Homo sapiens: one gene and its partners. The protein of the gene in region 4 interacts with the protein of the main gene of each other region in a pairwise test. Each region holds a gene or a part of one and is shown on either strand. Other genes may lie near its edges.

Evidence for each region. Proteins that work in one complex are often made in the same cells at the same time.
Region 1: the proteins of SH3GL3 (region 4) and CD101 interact in a two-hybrid assay, tested with the Homo sapiens proteins (one large-scale study listed by BioGRID and IntAct).
Region 2: the proteins of SH3GL3 (region 4) and TNNT1 interact in a two-hybrid assay, tested with the Homo sapiens proteins (one large-scale study listed by BioGRID and IntAct).
Region 3: the proteins of SH3GL3 (region 4) and SNX24 interact in a two-hybrid assay, tested with the Homo sapiens proteins (one large-scale study listed by IntAct).

The regions. Positions count from the first base shown.
Region 1 is NC_000001.11:117,000,329-117,004,559, reverse strand, and holds the start of CD101 (immunoglobulin superfamily member 2 isoform 1 precursor), read right to left. Parts: upstream 2,801-4,231; 5' UTR 2,788-2,800; coding exon of another isoform or gene 2,743-2,787; coding exon 2,700-2,742; intron 1-2,699. UniProt on the Homo sapiens protein: Plays a role as inhibitor of T-cells proliferation induced by CD3. Inhibits expression of IL2RA on activated T-cells and secretion of IL2. Inhibits tyrosine kinases that are required for IL2 production and cellular proliferation.
Region 2 is NC_000019.10:55,146,407-55,150,488, forward strand, and holds the start of TNNT1 (troponin T, slow skeletal muscle), read right to left. Parts: upstream 2,801-4,082; 5' UTR 2,755-2,800; intron 1,688-2,754; exon of another isoform or gene 1,593-1,687; intron 763-1,592; 5' UTR 752-762; coding exon 720-751; intron 616-719; coding exon 602-615; intron 302-601; coding exon 275-301; coding exon of another isoform or gene 254-274; intron 61-253; coding exon 28-60; intron 1-27. UniProt on the Homo sapiens protein: Troponin T is the tropomyosin-binding subunit of troponin, the thin filament regulatory complex which confers calcium-sensitivity to striated muscle actomyosin ATPase activity.
Region 3 is NC_000005.10:122,844,418-122,848,412, reverse strand, and holds the start of SNX24 (sorting nexin-24), read right to left. Parts: upstream 2,801-3,995; 5' UTR 2,780-2,800; coding exon 2,720-2,779; intron 1-2,719. UniProt on the Homo sapiens protein: May be involved in several stages of intracellular trafficking.
Region 4 is NC_000015.10:83,614,841-83,618,340, reverse strand, and holds part of SH3GL3 (endophilin-A3), read right to left. Parts: intron 260-3,500; coding exon 54-259; 3' UTR 1-53. UniProt on the Homo sapiens protein: Implicated in endocytosis. May recruit other proteins to membranes with high curvature.

The DNA.
Region 1 (4,231 bases), on a different chromosome or scaffold from region 4:
TTGTTGGCTGATGAGTACAAAGCTTGGCACTGACATACTAACATTAGAATCATGCTTTCAAAACACCAAAAATTCCTCGATGGTATTGACTTTCTTTAAAAATATCACTGGAATTGTCAAATTTACCACTGCAGTATTATTTGAATGAAAACGATTAGGTTGAACTGTATAAAATGGTCCATACTTGAGCACTTTTTATACCAAAAAAACAGCAGTTTCAAATAATGCTACCTTATACAAAACCTACCTCAGGAATAGCCAACATAACAAGCAGCTTCTTTCTCTTTTCACATTCAAAAACCCTATATGCTTGGAGGCTGAGATAGCTTCCATCCATACTAAGTGGAATCTTTTTTATTTTTCATGAATGCAAACTCAGTAAGACAGACAATAGCCCTTCCCCCAAACCCTGCCATATTAATGGCCATTATTTGTAGGGCAGCTAGTTTGGGTGGGGGAAATAGATCAAGCAGACAAAGCTAACTGCTAAATCCGAGAACTCATTTACCCATGACATTAATCTCATATGGCACCATTTTCTATCAGGATTGTTCAGTCCTTATATTTACTAAAAAAAAATTGGGACAAAGTGTAAATTTGCTAACCAATGTAATTGATCAATAGATCGTTATTTAAATAATTTATTTCAATTCCCCTCTATATTTGTAAGGACAAACAGCAGACTTCTAAAGCTTTTTCCAGTAACTTCCTGATTTATGTATTCTTCACATAAAAACTGTGCTTCTACACAAAATTAGTGCTTCAGATGAGTCAGAATTTAGAAGAAGTAAATGTATAACCCAGTTTAGGTAATTGTTTAAATGGGTTAAGGAAAAGCTTCCAGCTTCCCCTTTTTGAGCCTTGATTACTACTTTCCTTCCCCCAGGGCTTCTAGCCTGCTTACCAAAAAAAGAGACAGAATTTGCAATTCTATGAATTATTGCACAATGTAAACCCAGTTTCCTCCTATATACATAGCAAACATAGAATTCAAATACACAAAGCACATACACTTGAGAATCACACTCAGACAACTTAACCAAACAACAAAAACACACCAGCCCCCAAAGGATCCCACCAGTGCACCTATCCATCAACACCCGCCAAGCCAGTCTGGCAGGCATCCGTCACCCAGCAAGTGGTCCCAGTAACTTCCCCTGCAGGCCCTAGGTCTGACTCTTAACCTCACACTATCATATGTACCTAGAGACATGAGCACAATTCAACTCAATCAATGTTTATTAAGCAACCTCTTTGTGCTGAATGCTGTATTCTTTTCTTTTAATTCTTCAGCCATAGTCCTGGTCACACCAAATGCAGCTTGGTTTAGTTCCCCAATCATCCCAGCCATTCGGGTCCCTGCACTGGCTCCATCCAGTCTCTCTAAAGCAAGAGTTTTGTTTGTTTGTTTGTTTTTTTAGATGGAATCTCACTCTGTCACCCAGGCTGGAGTGCAGTGGCTCAATCTTGGCTCACTGCAACCTCCACCTCCCAGGTTCAAGCGATTCTCCCACCTCAGCCTCCCAAGTAGCTAGGGCCACAGGTATGTGCCACCATGCCCAGCTATAAAGCAAGAGTTCTTAACTGGGTCCACATGTAGGATTAAAGGGTCCATAAACTAGGGTGAAAAATAATCTTACATCTTTATTTTCATTTTTGCCTCTAATGGAAATTTAGTATTTTCTTCAGTTATGTATGTAGACAACCACAGATATCTTCATATCACATTACAACTACTTAAGATATATTGAAATGTTATTTATACTCATCATTACTTTGAAGTTTGGTGGTTAAAAGACCTACCTGTAGATTTTGTTATGTAATGCATAAATAAGAAGCAAATAAATTACTGCATTATAATTTATTTAAAATATTTTGATACCTGTATTTCAATGTGACTGATTTCCTCTGTAATTCTATGCATTTTATTTTATGCATTTTAAACATTATTCTGAGATGGAGTCTATTCTCTTTACCAGATGTTAATGAAAACTGTAGCATAAAAAGTACCTGCTATCTGGTTTGAAACTATTCCATTACCTGCTCAACTCATCTGACTCTCCCTTCTACCTCCAAATTTTCTCTTCTTCCATCCTATTCAAACATAGATAAATGCCCCTAGATCAGGCAAGCCCCTCTGCATGGCCCTCAGTAGAGCCAAGTGAATCTTCCTGTTCATTTCTCAGTCTCTCAGTAGTCAATTTCCACTTCCACTCGCAGGTGAAATCTAGAACCTTCTTTTAGCATAGTCTAAAACTACTAAGTACTTTCATAACCTTTCTTTCCATCCAGTCATATCTGCAAGGCATAGTTATCCCATCAAGCCTTAATATCAGGCAAACCTTAAGGTCTCCTCTCAGTTTGGGACACAAAGCTTTTTTACTGTCTCTTGGGATGATCGGCCCAGGAAGATGAGTAAAGCCAGGGCCAAGCAAAACTGACAGATCTGGCAACACACACAAATGTTAAAACCAATGGAATCTTGTGCATGGGACTCAACCAAGCATTGTGACTCCCTGGAACTCAAGGATGTCTAGGTAAGCCAAGAACTGTCATTAGTAAGTCAAAAATTATTGCTAACATCAGAAATATATGGCATAGTTGTTCCTGTAGAGACCAAATTGTCCTGTTCCATCACTCAGCACCCTGAGTTGATGAACTCCTGTGACAAGAGAAACATAAAGGATTATGAAACTTACTCAGAAGGAGAAAGAAAGATGCCACATATGAGATGCCTGCCATTTGGGCCAGCACAGTCCTTTTTCGTCCCAATAGTGTCACTAACATTCAGAGGTTGAGTGACAAATGCTGTGCTCTCACTGCAAAGTAAAGAGGAAGCAAAAGTGTGGTTTTCAGCCCACTGAGAAATAGAGATGTCTTGTGAAAAGCAAAACTGGTTACATTATGTAGCTCTTTACTAATCACTCAAATTTGGGAGTAAAAAAGTTATCTTTGTGGTTAAGTAAACAGATATCGATAAAACTAAGAAAAGATGGGTCTCAACCTGGCTCACAGTATGTGTCATTTGGTAATGATGAGAGAATTTAGGTAAACTGAATAAATAAAAAAGGCACCAGCAATGTTGTCTTCTTGGCCCTTCCTTCTCCTCCTCTCTTGAGAGAGGAAATGACTGAGAAATGGGAGAAGGCCCCTGAAAAACATGAACTTGGGGCGACATGAGGTGGTGCTGAAGGTTACAGGCTCTAGAGTCAGGCTGCCTGGGTTTGCATGCAGATTCTAGTTTTAGTAACTGTGCAATCTTAGAAAACTTAATTAACTTTTCCTAACCCTCATTGCTAAAATGAGGATACTAATAGTAGGTACCCTGTAAGATTACTGTGAATGCCAAATGAGCTAATTTTTTAATTATTTTTTTATTTCTTTTTTTTTGTATTTTACTTTTTTTTATTATTATTATACTTTAAGTTCTAGGGTACATGTGCACAACGTGCAAATTTGTTACATATGTATACATGTGCCATGTTGGTGTGCTGCACCCATTAACTCGTCATTTACATTAGGTATATCTCCTAATGCTTTCCCTCCCCCTTCCCCCGACCCTATGACAGGCCCCGGTGTGTGATGTTCCCCTTCCTGTGTCCAAGTGTTCTCACTGTTCAATTCCCACCTATGAGTGAGAACATGCAGTGTTTGGTTTTTTGTTCTTGAGATAGTTTGCTGAGAATGATAGTTTCAAGCTAATTTATTTAAAGCACTTAGAACAATATCTGGTACATAGTAACTGCTCAATGAATATTAGCTACCATCATCACCATCATGAGACATTTAAGTAAATCTTCATCTGCCCTGTGAAACTGCCTTTGCAAAAATTGTAACAGTGAGAAAGTTATGACAGTGAAAGGGATCTGACCTCACCATCTCCATCTTGCTTCTAACTTCCAAGCTGCCCTTGTTAATTCCTGGTTGTAGGCCAAACTAACTTTGGGAGGAATTTAGCTTAGTTTAATTTTGAAACAAAGAGGATAACAGCCCTTTCTGGAAACAAACCCCCTTCTTGCCTGGGGAGCAGACTTCCCTAGTAAGACTAACAAATTAGCCACAACATTAGAAATTATGGTTTAGGAGTCATGCAGCCAGAGGCCACACAATTCCAACCTCCCCAACTGTTCCTAGGGATAACATCACTATTGTAAAACCTAAATTGGTGCTCAAGGTATTTTTCAGACCCTGCATCCTGATGCACCAGCTGACACCATCCAGGCTGGTGATC
Region 2 (4,082 bases), on a different chromosome or scaffold from region 4:
CTCGGGAAGCGAAGCAGCCGCGGTTACCTGGCTCTGCCACCGGCTCCGGCTCTTCGGGGGCTGGGGAGGGGAGGGAGGAGCAGCGAGGGTTTGGGGAGCGAGGGGGGAGCGGCCACGCCCGGGCGCGGGAGGGGAGAGAGGGAAGAGACGTGAGAGGCTGTTAGAGGACCGGGAGCCGAGGCCGTCGGGAGCCCCATCCCGCCCCCTCCTCCCGGGCCCAGCGTCCCCGCCCCCCCACCCCCCAGCTCCAGACCTGCGGAGTCCGGGACCTCACCTTCCTCCTCCTCCTCCGCAGCCTCCTCTGGAGATGGGGGCACAGAAGAGAAGGCGTTAGGAGCTGGGGGAGGGATGGGGGCGGTGGCCAGAGACCAGGGTTCCAGTCTCTGCTGGACGGGGGTCCCTCTGGCCTCGGCTGCGATGGGCACGTTCCCCCTGGCGGTGCAGGGATGGCGCGAGGAGACGCTCCAGACCCGGAGAGGGCGGGCGAGGGCCCGAGGGCTGAGCCGCCCCTTCCCCGCCAAAGTGCCACACTCCTCGCCTCCCCTCCCAAGAGCTCCTGGGCGTGTCCCCATCCCATAGGGCCGGCCCACTCCCTACTCACCTTCCGGCTGCTCCCTGCGGACGGGTGTGGGGAGAGAGGAGGGAGGGGAGAGTTAGACCTGGGGTGGGAGAGCCTCTCCACCACTGCACGCCCCAACCCCTCCCAGTGCAGCACTCACTCCTCATATTCCTGCTCCTCGGTGTCCGACATCCTGGTGCGGCCTAAGGACCAGAGAGAAGAGGCCCAGTGGGGTGGGGCCCCAAGGAGGGGGCGACCTAGACTCCTGGGTGTGAGGGAGGAGGGGCTGGGGGCCTGGACTCCTGGGTCTGGACTCCTGGGTGTGAGAGAGGAGGAGCTGGGGTCTGGACTCCTGGGTGTGAGAGAGGAGGAGCTGGGGCCTGGACTCCTGGGTCTGAGGAAGGAGGGGCTGGGGGCCTGGACTCCTGGGTCTGAGGGAGGAGGGGCTGGGGTCTGGACTCCTGGGTCTGAGGGAGGAGGAGCTGGGGCCTGGACTCCTGGGTCTGAGGAAGGAGGGGCTGGGGCCTGGACTTCTGGGTCTGAGGGAGGAGGGACTGGGGTCCTGAACTCCTGGATCTGAGGGAGGAGGGGCTGGGGGCCGGATTCCTGGGTCTGAGGGAGGAGGGGCTGGGGGGTGTGTGGGAGGGTGGGTGTGGACTCCTGAGACTGAGATGGGTTGTCCTGGACACCTGGGTCTGAGGGAGGAGGGGCTGGGGTCTGGACTCCTGGATCTGAGGGAGGAGGGGCCAGGGGCCTGGACGCCTGGGTCTGAGGGAGGAGGGGCCGCGGGCCTGGACGCCTGGGTCTGAGGGAGGAGGGTCTGGGGGCCTGGCCTCCTGGGTCTGAGGGAGGAGGAGCTGGGGCCTGGACTCCTGGATCTAAGGGAGGAGAGGCTGGGAGTCTAGACTCCTGAGTCTGAGGGAGGAGCGGGCTGGGGGCCTGTACTCCTGCGTCTGAGGGAGGAGGGCTCAGGTCTGGACTCTTGGGTCTGAGGGAGGGGGCCGGCTGTCCTAAAGCATGCATGAGGACAGACCTTGGTAGGTGTGGTCCTGGCACAGCCAGGAGGCTGCAGACCCTGCCCCCTCAGCACAGCTGTCCTCTTTTGTCTTATGACAAGTCCATGGGAACCTGATCCAGTTGGGATTAGGAAGAGGCATTTGAGAAGGGACAGTGGCCTGAAGACAATAGCTGCCCCACCCCCAGGAGCTATTTTGGGGGGATGTCATAGATGGTGAAACCGAGGACATTTCCTAAGAAGGGATTTGAGGAAGGGGGGCTTCTGGGAGAATTAGTCACCCGCATCCCCTCTCCCACTCGCCCCACCCCACTGGCTGGTTTCCTCCCCACCTGTCTCCCCTTTCACCTTCCCATACATCACGTAGGGGGCAGGGGCATAAAGGGCACCTTCTGTCCGTAGACCTCACCCTGACCCCTACATTCTTAGACCTCAAAGTCTTTGAGACACCCTAGGCCACAGGGTGCCTAGCCCCAAATCCCAATACCCACAGATTCTGAGACCCCGATTTATGATGCCCGTGTTTCTGAGGCCAGCAAGTCCTCACAGCTCTGGATTCTGAAATCCCAGTTCTTGATAGTCCAGATATGGGCCGGGACATCCTAAGACCACCCCCAGGTCTTGAGACCTCCTAAAATCTGAAACCTCAAGAATATGAGACCCCCAAAATCTTGATACCCAAACTCGGAGGCCCAGTTCATGATACCCCAGATAATGGCACTCTAAGTTTTCATGCTTTCTATCATAATGTCTCAGATTCCGAGCCCTCCACTACCAAAACCCCAATTTCTTCTGAGACCCCCCCAATTCCTGATACCCTCAGAGTCTGAGGCCCCAAATCCTGACACCCAGATTGTTTGACCTCCAAGTCCAGATATCCCTGACTGCTGAGATTTCCCCCAGATTCCCAGAACCCCAAGATCCTAGGAGGTTTTATTCTGGGACATCCAAGTCCTGGCAGCCCCGGGTTAGGATTTGTGTAACCCACAAATCCTAGTATTTTCCCCTCTATCCTGAGTCCCCCTAAAGTCTGAGCCTCTCAAGTTCCCAGACCTCCAGTTGTATGCCCCACCTACCTCTGCACCATTTCTCCACACCCGACATCTTCCCCACCTGCCTCCTGCCCCCTCCCCCAAGGACATGGTTTTTGAAGACCACAGGGCTCCGCAGAGCCCCTTACCTAGGCTGTGTCTGAGATGCTGTGAATCTTGAGGCTGAGCCTTGCTGAGGGCACTGAAGCTCCGGGGAGTTTATAGCTGGAGGCTCGGGCCCGCCCCGAGGGGAGAGGGAGGGGGAGAGAATTCCTTTGCTCAAACACAAGCCTGGGAGTTCAGAGACAGCCCTGCTGCCCCTGGCTCCACACTCAGAGTCCAGAAGCCTCCGTGGGCCCCTCCCCAACCCCATGCCAACCCCATCTGCATGGCCCAGGAGCCCCGCCCCTGCTCCCACCCCACACCCCAGGCTCCCGTGGTGCTCCAACTACCTCCCTTATAGCTCCCTGTGCTTTGACGTCCCCATGCCCGGCACACAGTAGGTCCTTGGAGGACCTACTAATGACACATGGGCTATAAGGAATGTTTCCTGTTTTCTTCTCTCTGTTCCCTCTTTCTATCTAGGTCTCTTTCTGGACCCCCATTTCTGTTGTCTCTGTGGCTCTCCATCTGTGTGTCTCTGTGTGTCTGTCTCTACTTCTTAGTCTCCTCCTCTGTCTCTGTCCATCTTTTTGTCTCCTCCTCCCACCCCCACCCCTTTGTCTGCCGCCAGGATTCCATCCTGGTGACAACAGGCACTAAAGCCGGGAAGCAGGTGTGGGGAGGGGGAGGGGGAGGGTGGGGTGTCAATTAGGGTGAAACCTACCCTCCCTCCCCACCTCCATCTAACGCTGATCTTTTTTGGTATCCCCCTCCCGCTTCCCAGCCAAGCCATGACCTTGAGTTCTAGGTTCAAGCCAGCCCTGGAGAGCAGGCTTCCTCACCCTCCCCGCCTCTCCGTACCTCTGTCTCTGGTGGTCTCGGTCTTTGTGTTTCTGTGCATTTCTCGGGGCCCCTTGCTGGGTCTGTCTTGGGCTCTCTCTGCATCTGTCGCTTTCTGAGCCCCTCAGTGTGTTTCTCGGCATGTGTCTCCGGGTGGTTTTGTCTCTGCATTTCTGTGGGTGTCTCTGCATGTCTGCCCCTCTCAGCGTTTGTGTCTGTGGGGGCTCACAGTCTCTCTGTGCATTTCTGTCCACCTATGACCCCATTTCTGTCTCTTTTTGGCTCTGGGTCTCTGTGTCTGTGTTCACGTCTCTATCTTTCTAGTTCTCTCCATGTCTCTCTTAGTGCCCGCAGTTCCCCCTCTGTGGCTCTCCATTTCCATCTCTTATAGGGTCTCCATGTCTCTGCACCTTGCTGTGAGTATATCTCTGTCTCTCTTTTCTCCTTTCTTTGCACTTCCTTCTATGCATCTTGTGGTATTTTCTCCCTCTCTCTTTGGGTCTTTGCCTGGCTCCTACTCTCTCTACTCCCAACT
Region 3 (3,995 bases), on a different chromosome or scaffold from region 4:
TTTTAAACACAAACACAGGTCGGGCTCAGTGGCCCGCGCCTATAATCCCAGCACTTTGGGAGGTCAAGGTGGGAGGATCCCTTAAACCTAGGAGTTTGAGACTAGCCAGTGCAATATAGTGAGATCCCATCTCTACAAAAAATACAAAAATTAGCCAGTTGTGGTGATTTATGCCTGTGCTACTCAAGAGGCCAAGGGGGAAGGATCACTTGAGCCCAAGAGTCCAAGGCTGCTGTGAGCTAGGATTGCGCCACTGCACTCCAGCCTGGGTGACAGAGCAAGATCCTAGCTCTTAAAAACACACATTCACACAAACATAATCGCTAAAGTAAAAAGATATTTTTTACACGAAAGTGTACATTATTTTACAAGCTTCTTATTTAGGAAACTGAAATATTTTTTAAATTCTGGGGTTTTTTTTAAGCTGCTATATTCATAGCTTATTCACTGCTATATTCCCTACACCCAGAATACAGACACAGAGCAGGCACTCAGTAAATATTTGTTGAATGAAAAACCGCTGTACAATCATAAAACCAGTTGTGCAGAGGGGAAAAGTATCTAATAACTGCTTCACAAACTCACAGAAGCAAAAAAATCCCTTCAGAAGGTATTTTAGGGCTGGGTGTGGTGGCTCATGCCTGTTATCCCAGCACTTTGGGAGGCCTAGGCAGATGGTTTGCTTGAGCACAGGAGTTCAAGACTAGCCTGGGCAACATGGAGAAACCCTGTCTCTACAAAAAATTTAAAAATTATCCAGGAGTGGTGCCATGTGCCTGTAGTCCCAGCTACTCCAGGGGCTGAGGTGGAAGGATTACATGAGCCCAGGAGGCAGAGGTTGCAGTGAGCTGAGATCACCCCACTGCACTCCAGCCTGGGTGACAGAGGAAGACTGTCTCAAAAAAAAAAAGAGAGAGAGAGATTTTAACAGTTTAGCTCCCAATCTGGATGAGTTAGGATTTTTTTTAAGCAAATATTTAAAGAGCAAACTCTCATCACATAAGCAATCTTCAAACTCTCCCGAATTTGTCCAAAAAAGAGCTCCTTCCACATCAGTTTAATTCACAACCTGGAGTGTGGCACATGCCTGGTCATAAATACAAATAATAAAAAGATACATAAAGCTTTGGGAGAAAAGCACAGCTCGTCTAATAGAAGAAAATCAACAATGGGCAATGAGCCTTAATTATGGTCTATTTCAAAGTGCTTATTTCTGCAGGTAATTAACTTTTAGCTTGAACCGGTAAGATCAACTTCATCTTTTCTTTGAAAGCCAACGCCTCTAACAAGCAGCCTTTTTATCTTCAGATCCTAAATGAATGTCCCAAAGATGGTAAGCCCTCCATGACTGTTGATAGTGCTGATGGGAGAAGTGAGATACCTGGGAGAAGCAACAACAAGCAAGGTTTTAGGCTTAAGAGACTTGGATAAAATCTCCAAGAAAAAAAAAAAAAAGCCTTGAACAAACTCGAGGGTTTGTTTGTTTGTTTTTAAGGAAGATACAGACTATTTAACGAAATGTGAATGCACTGGAAAGGATTATTTATATAAATAACTACCACTATGGAACACAGCTCCCTCTCCCTGCATTTTCCTTCCCAAGGAAAGCACTTTAACAACTTGTTTCAGAACACTTGGATCCAGCAGTCTACTCAATTCTAAAAACCCACCGACTTCCTGGACTATTTTTTCAATCACTGTTTTTCATTCTAAATCTTCCTTTGAGAGGGTAATTTAGTCCCAACTAAGAAAACACAATGGCCCAAACAGACTGTCACCAAATACCAGTAATATTTAGAGGAGGGGAGAGGGGTTAAAATATTCTCCATCAAAGTAATGTAACTGGTGTTTAGCAAGTGTGTGATTGATGTAAATAAAATAACAAATCTTTCAGACTGCCCTGCAATCTTTCTTCAACCCTACAGGTTCTTTAACAACTGGAAGTAAATTCTTCCAAGGTGTACACACACTCAGACATTTCTCCCACTAGCAATGACTGTCCAGGAAAGAATGTTTTGAATTCATTGGGAAATCTCCACCAACAATTCACTTAGTAAACGTGTTGCTCAAAGGGCCCATGCCCTGGTCTCTGCCCTCCCCTTCACTCTTGAGAGCAGGGGTCCTGTTTCACACTTCTCGGTGACCACAGTCCTAGGTATGAAACAGGTGCTCAGCAAGTAATTTTGCCATTTCATGGAACTGCACAACTCAAAAAGAAAAATCTTTGGAAATCATCTAAAATCAATACACGTGTTTAGTTTGGCTAATAAACAGCTGCAAATTATGATTTAAAAAAAAAAAACAGGTTTTCCAGCTGAACTAATTGTACAGAACTTGGAAGCCAGCGTGAATCTGCCGCGAAGCTACTACTGTCTGGACTGAGGGGGCAGCTGTGCCAGAAAGGAACGCAGCCCATCCTGGGCTCCCGAAGGCGGGCGGCGGGGAGAATGGCTAGTGCCGCGTCCGAGGACTGCAGCTCGTCCGGGAGGAGAGGGTTGGACCCCGAGGGGCTAGGGGCGCCCGCAGCCGCCGTGCCCGGGAGGGGCGCCCGTTTCCTTGACAACCGCGCCAAGGGCGCAGCCCTTCCTCTGGGCCGGGGGAGGGGAGAGAAAACGAGGGGACCCCCTGCGCCAAGGCGGCGGCGGCCAAGGGTGTTTCCTGGGCGCAGCAGCCGCAGGCCTGGCTCGCGGGGCCCTGTCCGCCCGCGGCCCGCGCCTACCGTGTATCCCCGCTCCAGGTCGCTCTCTTCATAGCGAAAGGACGGGATGTAGACCTCCATGGCCGCGCCGGCCAGCCGGCTGAGGGCGAGTTGGGGGCAGGCTCACGGCCGCGGCCGCCGCTCCGCCCACGGCCGGGCCGCCCCGCCTCCCGCCCCGCTGCGCCCGCGGGGCCCCGAGGCTGCGGGCCGGACTCAGGTCTGCGGGCTGACCCGGCCGCTCCCGCGCCCTGGGCGTGCCGGGGGCCGGAAGCAGAGGGCGCAGGGCTCCAGGCGCCTGGGTTTCGGGCCTAACGGGCGGTGGAGATCAGCTGGGCCCGAAAGAGGCGGGGCCAGAAAACCTGAGTCTGCAGAAACGGGGTGTGCGCGCCAACGCGCTGGGCGCGGGGACTGGGCCGCACCCGGCGCTCCCTGCCCTGCGGACTCCGGCTGGAGCTTGATTTGCAGTTTGCTAGACGCCACCATTAAGAGATTGCCAGACAGCAAAGAATAGAAAGAGTGGCGCTTTTAACTTTTGTTTTGGTTGGTTGAATTTTTTTTTTCCCTCTCGGCTGGCATTAACAGCGGTGAACCAGCCGGCTTATACCAAGACTCTCCGAATTCCCTTCGATTCGAAGGTCAGCGTCTCCTGAGTTAGACGTCGAATCTGAGAATGGTGGTGTACCACAGAGCTCGAAAGTGAGCCCGAAAGTTGGCCGGTCACTAAGACAAACGCTCTGGCTTCACGCTGCAGTTCTAAAATGCCGCCTTTAACTGTGAAGTACTTTTTAACTGTGAGGGAAAAATAGAATACGGAAAAAAAAAGGACTGAACCCGTGCCTCGGACCAGGGTCTAGTAGGCTGAAGGTACCTAAAAGATTAAGTGTCCCGGCGGGGGAGGCTTGATTATCAAGTTAGTCAAGTAAACGTTGGGTTTCTTCTTTAGGTTAGCGCACCGAGCAGAATAGAAACGTGGACGTGACTTGTAGGTCACTGAGAAGTGACCTCAGCCATCCAGGAAAAAACCAGCCAGCGAGCTTTCTTGGACTGTAAACAATTGCACTTAACTCCGTTTGTCCTTGAGTGCAGAGGACATTTCAGCTTAGCAAACTCTAGACTTTATGATGGGACCCTGAGCCGTGCAACAGAGGGATAAGGCAGCTTCTCGTTTTAGGAACTTACCTGATGTGGACCCCTCTACATTAGTCTCATCTGAAGATCCGTCCTCCTAACCCAGCACTCACACATTTGCAGCTCCAGGATGTGCCCTTCTCTCAAAACTGTGCCTTAGCTGTGCCCT
Region 4 (3,500 bases):
TGGTGTGAATTCATTTCAGTTACGAAAGTATGTCCAGAGTTTGTGTTACACATTTACTGAGGTAAAGGCACGATCACTTCCACGTAATTAATGGGGAAGAATCCCGATTCTCCGTGTATCATTCCTTCATACCAGTTTTCATCTATTTGATTGGTTAATGTAATGATGTCCCCTTCTTTAAATCCTAATTCTCCTTGGTTTTCTGGCTCAAAGTCATAGAGACCACGACAGCAGGGCTGGTCCATGGGAATGTTAGAACCTGTCCACATGATATGGAGACAAAAAGTACAGATGAACATGATGGATTATCCATGGGAAATTGGAAATGTGGAAAAGCTCAGAGAGACCCTTAACAGCAGGCCTTGCTTCCTTCCCACAAGGCCAGCTCCACCCAGCTCACGGTGCCGTTTGTGGTCTCTGGCTGCCTCAGCTCTCCCAGCTGCCTGCGCCAACCCCATGAGCCCAGAGTCTATCTTTTCAATACTCCCAGGCAGAGAAGTCGTGCCCAGCCCATCTCCCAAAAGCAGCCAGTCAGCTCCACCTGGAGCCCTAAGGGAGCGACAGAGGAATCACAGGCCCACCTCCTTCTCTCTGGGAGCTTACAGTTTCTTTGTGGGGATTAGAAAATACACGAGAAACTTTTATTTATTTATTTATCTATTTTTGAGACAGAGTCTTGCTCTGTTGCCCAGGCTGGAGTGCAATGGTGCGATCCTGGCTTACTGTAACCTCTGCCTCCCAGGTTCAAGAAATTTTCGTGCCTCAGCCTCCCAAGCAGCTGGGACTACAGGCATGCGCCACCACGCCCAGCTAATTTTGTATTTTTAGTACAGGTGGGGTTTCACCATATTGGCCAGTCTGGTCTCGAACTCCTGGCCTTAAGTGATCTGCTCACCTCAACCTCCCAAAGTGTGGGGATTACAGGCGTGATCCACTGTGCATGGCCAAAAATCTTTTAAAGAACAAATATGAAGTGTGTATCACTCATGGTTCAGGAGCTCTGGGGAGAGGGTAGTAGGGAGGACCTTGGTGGTCAGCAAGATCTTCCTAGTTAATGGGCAGGACAAGGGCCGGGAGGAGAGAAACCAGGACAAGAAAGGCAAGAATATTTACAGACCAGAATTTACAGACAAGAATATTTACTGACATCTAGTCCCAGAATAACATCAAAAACATTTTTTTCAAAACAAAATCATGCTAATTGTAAACAAAAAATACATGTATGCAAAGTGGAGAAAGAAAAGTCAGAGCTGTAAACCATTACCCCAGAGATAACTGGGCTAGCTTTCAGATTCCAGATGTCTTCATGATTATATTTGTGCATATATTTACATATAGTTGTTTTCATAAAAGATTCTTCTTGTACAAGCTAGGGTGAATATCTTTCAATTTTAGTTACTGACTAGCTGTCAGCTCTCACAATGTAACATTTCTTCAACTAATCTCCTATTGTTGGACATTTACGGTTCTTCTTTCTTTTCCTTCCTTCTCTTCTTTTCATCTCTTCTTTTCCTTCCTTCCTTCATTCTTTTCTTCCTTCTCCCTCCCTGTTTTTCTCGATTTCTCTTCCTTTTTCTTCATTTCTTTCTGTTGTCTCTTTTATTCCCCCTTGGCTTTTATAGACAATTCTTTGGGAAAAAGAGCTTATACATAAATATCTACAAATGTGCACTATTAATTTCTGAGGATAAATTCCAAGAAAAGGATTTCATGGTCATAGAACATGAATTCTTTCTAAAATATCTGACATTTAGTGTCAATTTATTTTTCTATTAGGTTGGTGCAAAAGCAATCACAGTGGCCAGGCGCAGTGGCTCACGCTTGTAATCCCAGCACTTTGGGAGGCTGAGGCGGGCGGATCACGAGTTCAGGAGATCGAGAACACAGTGAAACCCTGTCTCTACTAAAAATACAAAAAAATTAGCCGGGCGTGGTGGCGGGCACCTGTAGTCCCAGCTACTTGGAGAGGCTGAGGCAGGAGAATGGCGTGAACCCGGAAGGCGGAGGTTGCAGTGAGCCAAGATCGCGCCACCGCACTCCAGCCTGGGGGACAGAGCAAGACTCCATCTCAAAAAAAAAAAAAAAAAAAGCAATCACAATTTTTACCATTACTTTTAGTGGCAAAACCTGCAATTACTTTTGCACCAACCTAATATCACTATTTTTCTTAAGATGTTTAGAAGTCCCTTTATACTACACATATTTACCCTTTATCTGTCATTTCTGGTACAAACATTATTCCCAACTTATCATCTGTTCTTTTTTTTTCTCATTTTGTTTTTGAAGTTTGTGCTGGCAGTGGGGCAGGGAAAGGGGTTTCTATTTTGTTTTGGCATGAATGCACAAATTGAAGAGTATAAGCAGTCAAACTAATCAAACTTTCTATTCATGGTTTATTCTCCACAGTCCTATATAAAGACTCAACTAAATTTTATTCTAGTATTTTTATTTAATTTTTTTCACATCAGAACTTTTATAATCTATTTGGATTTTGGCAAAATGAGGTAAATATCTATTATATTTAATAATGCTTATGCAGTCATAACAACATACTTAAATAATCCATATTTTCTCCAGTGATTTCAAGTATTGCCTTTATCTTTATCATATATTTAATCATCATGGGACTTAGATCTATTTTTGGATTTTTTCTATTTTGTCCCACTGACTCATTTTGGTAACAGTACCATATCATTTTAAATACTGTGGCTTTATAATAAATGTTAACAGGCCGGGTGTGGTGGCTCACACCTGTAATCCCAGCACTCTGGGAGGCCAAGGCGGGCAGTTCACTTGAGGCCAGGAGTTTGAGACCACCCTGGCCAACATGGTGAAACCCCATCTCTAAAAATACAAAAGTTAGCCAGGCATGGTAGCGCATGTCTGTAATCCCAGCTACTCAAGAGGCTGAGGCAGGAGGATCACTTGAACCTGGGAGGCGGAGGTTGCAGTGAGCTGAGATCACACCACTACACTCCAGCCTGGGTGACAGAGTGAGACTCCATCTCAAAAATAAATAAATAAATAAAATGTTAATAACTAGTAAAACTAGTTCATAGTCATTACCCTTCTATTTCAATATTTCCTTGCTATTCTCATGAATTCATTTAACTAGGTATATTTCAGTATTAATATGACACATTTCTCTCACAAAAATCTCACTTCAATTTTGACTAGTTCATACTTTTTTTCTTTGAGTATTAATAAGATTAATCTTAGGAGTTTTTTTTTTTCTTAATAAGTGACTTTTGCCATCCTATTTGATGATTTCCATTTTTATTTCCTTTTTCTGTTATAAGACTTTTTCCTCCCTCTAGACTTCAAGTGAGAATTGAACAAGTTCTGCTAGAGATTATGTTCTTTCTCCACTAAGTCTTCTAGGTCCAAGTAAAGAGAATAGGTACGTTGGGGTATTTCTGTGGCTGGCCAAATGAGATGCCCCTTTGTCCTGGGGAGGGGTAGAGAGGTGACAGCATTATGGGAGGAGGAAGACAAGAGTT